Homo sapiens: one gene and its partner. The protein of the gene in region 2 purifies or fractionates together with the protein of the main gene of each other region. This does not show direct contact. Each region holds a gene or a part of one and is shown on either strand. Other genes may lie near its edges.

Region 1 (3,500 bases), on a different chromosome or scaffold from region 2:
TGAAGCCACATCCAAAGCTGTTACTCAGAAAACTTAGTATCACTGAGAGTATATTGGAGAGCTCAAAGTCTTACTCAGGCAGCTGATCAAAGAATAATGGTCTTAGTCACTGTAAGTACTTTTGGATACCTGGCATAAAGGATGTAATGAATACATGATTGAATAAGGATATATCTTAAGAATGCATTTTCATAAAAACATAAAATCAGTTGAGATTATGTAAATTTTGAAGAATGAAGAAAGTAAGTTATCATAGCTTCTTCTCAAGTTTTATTTTTATGTCTTACAAATATGGCTGGGCAATACAACACAAGGCTTCCTTTTCAGGAATTTGGAGAACTTATGCTTGGTATTTTAAACTCATGAGAACTTAGTCTAGAAAGGGCCTCCACTTATTTGACCACAGGTAGAAGATTGGCTCTGCTTTCTTCCTGTAATAATATTGGTTTCTATAGGTCAAATGATACACAGTATAATTTTGTGGCATTTTGATTACAAGTTTTCCATTTAAAAATGGACAAAAATCAACTTCTTACTTGAAATTTTGGAGGTAGTATGTTACCAAAAAAAATGGTAGTTCTTGTAAAGGTATACCTGTGTCTAGACATAAGTTGCAGGTTTAAAAATCAATAGATTTGAATAAAGTTAAAGTCTAGAAAAATATGCAATGTATACATGCGGATGATTAGTAAACCCTAATATCCAAATGCAATGTCAATAGTGTTACTAAAAATGAACTATCGGCCATTATTGCAAAACTGCCAACTGAGAATATTGATATAGATACTAACTGTATTTATTTGTTTTTTCAGCAATTTATTTTAAAACAATCTTGGATATATTTAGTTACATCTGGAATAAACTCAGGTATTACACAGGGCCTTGAAACATTTATAAAAGGGTATATTAAACCCTGCCTTTAAGAAAACTATCATCTGGTCGAGGAGGGACATTTGTCAGTTGAAGTTCTTCAACGAGCCTGGAGGGAATGTCGCAGTGTGTTCTGTTTGGAAAGTAAGTTGTACCCTGACTGCCACTATGGAAGCTGAAGGGGGAGATACAAGCTGCTGCCTTCCAGATATATTTAAGAGACACTGATTTTGGAATAAGTCAGTGAATAAAAATAGGGGCTCAGGACTCATCCGAACGTGGGGTACTGATGCTGCTCAGATTCACTGCCCTGTGTTCTAGGGAGGGTATCGAAGCCCAAATTGTTGCTTTCTGCAGGAAACGAGTGTTTCCTGCCTCGTTTCCCACTGGAGTTGCCACATGTTGTGTTTTGCAAGCCTACTCCATCGGGTGTCCTGGGAATTCTATGAGCCACCCCTATGTTCAAATACTTAACTTTTTTTTTTTTTTTTTTTTTTTTTTTTTGAGACGGAGTCTCGCTCTGTTGCCCAGGGTGGAGTGCAGTGGTGCGATCTTGGCTCACTGCAACCTCTGCCTCCCGGGTTCAAGCGATTCTTCTGCCTCAGCCTCCCAAGTAGCTGGGACTACAGGTGCGTGCCACCAGGCCTGGCTAATTTTTCTATTTTTACTAAGACAGGGTTTCACCATATTGGCCAAGTTGGTCTCAAACTCCTGACCTCGTATTTTTTTTTTTCTTCAACAGTCAGTATCTGTTTTCGTGCTTACAACCAATACCCCCAACTTTTACAGACACAAAAGCAAACATAATAGACTTATTATTCCTTGTTATGGGCACTCGTTAAACATTTACAACACGGAAACACATGTCCTTTTGTTCTGGAAAATGTTTTAGAGTGGATTCTAGGTTTCATGTATTCCTCCCCCTTTTTCTGGATGAAGGGAGACACCAGGATGGCAGTTGTGTGCCTCTCCTTCTAGCCCCAAGTCAAGCTTCTAATGGAGTCTTTCTAAGGAAGTTGACGTTGGTAGAATTCCTGCTGCATCACAGGGGAGTTTCAGGTCAATTTATGGTAAATACAGAAAAAGTCAGTCCCCAGAATGACAATTATTAGCTCTAGGTGGAAAAAAAGTTATGTAGGAGGGAAAGCAAAATCATTTTTACCATGTAGTTTAACTAAGAGTACTGGCAAGGTCATAAGAAATAAATGCCAAATATTGATATAATCATATTTTAATACAAATATTTCTGAAAGAGACATGAGAAGAGTATTTTATGTGGTGAGTTTGGGGAGAGAAAGACATCTAAATGAATAATGAATGTCTAAAATTGAAAAAAAAAGTATTAGTGTCATAAGCATGCTATTCAGAAAAGTGAACATAAATAAAATAATGAGTTAGAAGTAGTAAAATTTGTTGTCTCAAGGTAACAAAAATGAGGAAGGGCAAGGGACTACTATGTTTCGGGAAAAACAAAAACAAACAAACAAAAAACCTGTAAAGCCCTTTGACCCTTTGCACTACATGCACTTATAAAATACAAAGAACAAGGCCAGGAGTGGTCGCTCATGCCTGTAATCCCAGCAATTTAGGAGGCTGAGGCAGGTGGATCACCTGAGGTCCAGAGTTCAAGACAAGTCTGACCAACGTGGAGAAACCCCGTCTCCACTAAAAATACAAAATTAGCCAGGCATGTTGGCATATGCCTGTAATCCCAGCTATTCAGGAGGCTGAGGCAGGAGAATCACTTGAATCCGGGAGGCAGAGGTTGTGGTGAGCCGAGATTGTGCCATTGCACTCCAGCCCGGGCAACAAAAGTGAAACTCCGTCTCAAAAAAATAATAATAAAATAAAATACAAAGAACATTGCATTGAGATAAAAATTACAATGTATCATTGATTTGAATTTTTTCTGCATGTAATTCATCAGTTAATTTTATTCTGTAGAAATTTTTCCCTGCTATTTCTCCATGGCAAATGAAAGTAGTGATCGTGAAACATTGTGTTTTATTCATTCAAAACAACAGAATACAAGACAAAGGAAAATATTTCTATACCCTACAAGAACCAAAAATCCAAAAGTACACACTAACACTAGAAAAAGTGTTCTGAACAGGTTGACCATATAACTTATTCTAACAAGGATAATACGAAATAAACCAGAATTATCCCAGACATTTATTACTCATACTTCCAAATGGACCTTTTCTTACATCTTACAAGATAGTTAGTGCTCTGAATCTGGAAAAATATGTGTAAACCGACCTTGAGGATTTATAAAATTTCCTTAGAAAGCATTGCAGTTAATTCTAGAAGCTATTTTTCTACCTATTGAATCACTAGAAATAGAGAAGCTTTTAAAAAAATTAACTTGTTTTTAGTTTTCAGATACATGTTTTAAGAGCCCAGAGTCTTGGCTGGAAGAACTCTAATGAACAGATCAGTGAAAAAATATACTTATACAGAAGTCTGAAGGTGGAGATCAGTACTTTCTAGATGTTACATTTTAATAGTAGCTAAACTAATGATGACATGTTTATATTGTCTTATATTTTTTAAAGATATTTTCTTATCACTGTTGTGAAAAAGAAACTTTGTACTCACAATTTAGCGTCTCCACTTACACTTTATAA
Region 2 (4,154 bases):
CAGAGCCTATCGAGGGTCATTGTAGCTCTGTCCCAGACAGTCCCTTTCCTCTGCTGACCATATACTGCCACTGTTAAGCGTTAGGAGCGTGTATACAGAGGCCCAAGCAGGGGCTCTTATTGCTGGCATGCATCAGCAGAATCACCCTGTGGCAGGGCAGGGAAGATGGTGATTCTATAGACCTAGGGTAGCCCCTGGCACCTTTTAAAGCTCCCTAGCTGTCCTGATGCATTCCACAGGAAAAAAACGACTGGACTGTGAAGGTAATAGACATGGATGGTAGGGGAAAATATAGGAAAGCGTGGGGGAACTTGGTGCTTAAAAAACTCGTCTTATCCCCAAGGTCACCCCTCTTTCTTTCTGAGTGCTTTTTCTTATCTTTGACCCTGACAAACATAACATTGTTCGAGGCTTTCTGCTTTATGAACTCTTAATTCCTTTTTCATGCTTTTCACTTTAGTGAATTGACTAAATGATCAGAATCATAATTCCTCTTTTGAAAATAAACTATTTGAAAGTGACTTGGGCTGTTGAGTGTGAGATTCGACAATGCTCTATGATATCTACCATGTCCTGAGACTAGATTGTGTATTCCCTGATGCCCTGAACAATTATCTGAAAGCGTTGTTTGGCTGGGATCATTGATGGTTTTTCTAATGCCTAGCAAATTAGGATTTGGAGTGTTAATAAGAAGTTTGTTCTGAAATGAAATCTCACAAATAGCTTAGTGTTTTGCTTTAAACCCTTTTGAATATGCATGAAAACAACAGGGAGTATTCTATAGTGTTCTCTCAAGACTCTAGATAACACTGCTATTGTGTAGTTCCCTGATTCCCGCAGCCCGAGGCATGCTTGTACTTTTAAAATCCTACTTTGGCCTAGAGCGGTGGCTCACACCTGTAATCCCAACACTTTGGGAGGCCGAGGCAGGTGGATCACCTGAGGTCAGGAGTTGAAGACCAGCCTGGGCAACTTGGTGAAACCCCATCTCTACTAAAAATACAAAAAAAATAGCTGGGCATGGCCGGGTGCGGTGGCTCACGCCTGTAATCCCAGCACTTTGGGAGGCTGAGGTGGGCGGATCACAAGGTCAGGAGATTGAGACCATCCTGGCTAACATGGTGAAACCCCGTCTCCACTAAAAATACAAAAAATTAGCCGGGCCTGGTGGCAGGTGCCTGTAGTCCCAGCTACTGGGGAGGCTGAGGCGGGAGAATGGCATGAACCTGGGAGGCGGAGCTTGCATTGAGCCGAGATCGCGCCACTGCACTCCAGCCTGGGTGACAAGAGCAAGACTCTGTCTCAAAAAAAAAAAAAAAAAAAATTAGCCGAGTGTGCTGGTATGCGCCTGTAATCCCAGCTACGTGGGAGGCTGAGGCAGGAGAATCGCCTTGAACCTGGGAGGTGGAGCTTGCAGTGACCCGAGATTGTGCCACTGCACTCCAGCCTGGGCGACAAAGTGAAACTCAGTCTCGAGAAAAAAAAAAAAAAATCGCACCTTATCCTCTGTCATAACATTGATCCCACTGCACTGTAACTGCTGATCTCCTCTAGCTCTCCTCATTTCTCTCTGGAATCTAATCTCACTGAGGTCAGGGACTTTGTATCTCCAGCATCTAGCTCAGGAGAAACTGAATAATCAATGATGAGTGAATGAGTCCCAAAATTCTGGAAGCAAATATCATTGTCCCTTGAAGAAGGACCTCACTTAGAGAGGAGAGAGAGAGGAGGGGAAACAGAGTTACATTGGTCAGAGAGGTAGGAAAAGCACTAAAATAGTATTCTATCATGAAAATCCAGGAAAAAGAGGAGAAATGTTTGAGGAATTAGCAAATGCTACCTAGAGGTAAACGAGAATGAGAATTTAAAAAATGTTTTGGGATTTTTTCCCAGTCATTAGTGGCTATAGATAGAATCAAGATCTCAAGGGATTAAGGGGAGAACACAAGATAAGGAAATGAGGGTGGAAGGTTAAAAAAACATGCAGAGAAGTGAGGCTACAAAAAGCAGATTTGGAAGTGGTTGAGCAGAATGACAGAAGCAAACGCAGCATCCTCATGAGGGAGGAGAACAGTGTTTGAGGGCAGAAATGGGAGGTTCTTTTAGTGTCCACCTCCACGTCCTCCGGCGTCACCCCTGCCAGTGATGGAGGGGCTGAGCTCTGAGCATCTCGCTGGTCTGTCTGAGGCTGAGTCAGCAGTCGGTTTATTGAAAAGCCATGTGTGCTAAGCCCTGTACTAACCCATTTTCTTTGAATGATGTTGTTTCTTTTAACTTGCATCTTCCTTTTCCTGCAGGAAACATGGTAGAATGGTGCTTACCTCAAGATATTGACCTTGAAGGTGTTGAGTTCAAGTCTATGGCCAGTGGGTCCCATAAAATCCAATCTGATTTCATGTAAGTACTTCTGAACTGGAGTCATCTTCGTACCATTCCCCCCACCTCCACACTTTCCCCAAAGCTGAAGGGCTCTTATTAGGAGGTCTTCGTGTGCTGTGTGTAAATGCCTTGAAAATACATGGATAGTTTTGTGTTTACATCATTTTTCTAGTGAGATGTCTAGCTTTCATCAGATTCTCAATGGGCTTCATGACCTGCAAATCTTAAGAATCCCTGCCTGTAGAGGTTCTCTCACTTTCTCAGAAATTACATGGACCTCACTTGAGGTTTGGTTTTAATGAAAGTGCACAGTTTCAGCCCCGTGTGAGTTAACTGAGGATATCTATGTGTTCAACCTTGAAATTTCAGCTTTAAGTAAGGCCATTTTTTAGTCCTGTGTAGTGGGGCATTCAGAGAGTTTTGCGAGAAGGAACAATGGAAAGAGCTTAAGGGTAATGAAGTGGCTTTAATCTCCTCATGGGGCTTAATTCATGATTGATACAAGTGTGAGAAGAGGAGGAAATAAAATGGCAGCTCAGTGAAAAATATCAGAGCCTCAGGAAGTAAGGGAAGAATCACTGTGGTTTATGCTACGAAAGAGAGTCCAAGTTCCAGAGGAGCCTGAAGAGGAATGTTGGTTCTGCTTCACCCATCCAAGTCATTAGTCGTGGTGCAGGAGAGAAGAGATGTGTCCATGATTGTGGGCAGCTGAGCGGCAGGCTTGCCACGGACTAAGTCCCAGCTCCAGCCAAGTGACCCTTGGCAAGTTATGTAATCTCTTCAAGCTCATCAGTGAGGTCATGTGGCTTGGCCCGCTTGTTTTCTTGAGGCTGAGCTTTGTCATTGACAGCCCCGAACACAGTTCATTTGTTTTGTTTAGGATTGCATCTCAAAATTCCTCTCTGATCTTGAGCCACACTACGTATTTGGTCTCTTCTAGCTATTTCCGAAAGGGGCCCTTCTTCGGCCTGGCCTGCTTTGCCAACATGCCCGTGGAGAGCGAGCTGGAACGTGGCGCGCGGATGAAGTCTGTGGGCATCCTCTCTCCCTCCTACACACTGCTTTACCGCTACATGCACTTCTTGGAGAACCAGGTTCGGTACGTGGCTTCCGTACATGTGCAGGGAGGCAGCAGGATCCACCAGCTGGTGCATATGGCACGAGCCCTCGGAGACAGCATTTGCGTGCCAGAGCAGCAGATGTCTTTCCAAGAACATCCATGGCGATGTTTCACGCCTCGGGTGGTGTCCTTTCGTTTCAGCCAACGTCCTGCATGATGAGTCTTCACTCTATAATGAAAGCTGGGGTATATTCTGCCTTCAGTTTGGATTTAATACTACCATCACTTTTTAAAATTAAGTCATTTTTTGACAGGTACATGATCTTTGTTTATGCAAAGCCGCAATAGTTACCTCCTTGCCCCAAGTAGGCAAAGAAATCCTAAACTTTCTTAAAGCCTACTTCTTTTATTATTGGGATTCTTACTATGATTGGGATAATAGAAAGAGAACTTAAAAATATATATATATATATATATATATATATATTTTTTTTTTTTTTTTTTGGTAGAGACAGGCTCTTACTATATTGCCCAGGCTGGTCCTGAACTCCTGCAGTCAAGTGATCCTCCTGCCTCAGCCTGCCAAAGAGCTGAGATTATAGGCATGAGCCAAGGTGCCTGGCATAGGAAGAGAATTTTTAACAGAAGCAGCAAAACGATTAGTTACTTTACATTTTTTTCATCATGCAGGTAACCTAATTACATTTCAGATTTT

The links. Proteins that work in one complex are often made in the same cells at the same time.
Region 1: the proteins of DENND11 (region 2) and CD226 purify together in Homo sapiens (co-immunoprecipitation; one large-scale study listed by IntAct). This does not show direct contact.

Annotation. Positions count from the first base shown.
Region 1 is NC_000018.10:69,857,374-69,860,873, forward strand, and holds part of CD226 (CD226 antigen isoform a precursor), read right to left. Parts: 3' UTR 1-3,500.
Region 2 is NC_000007.14:141,684,802-141,688,955, reverse strand, and holds part of DENND11 (DENN domain-containing protein 11), read left to right. Parts: intron 1-2,297; coding exon 2,298-2,397; intron 2,398-3,319; coding exon 3,320-3,478; intron 3,479-4,154.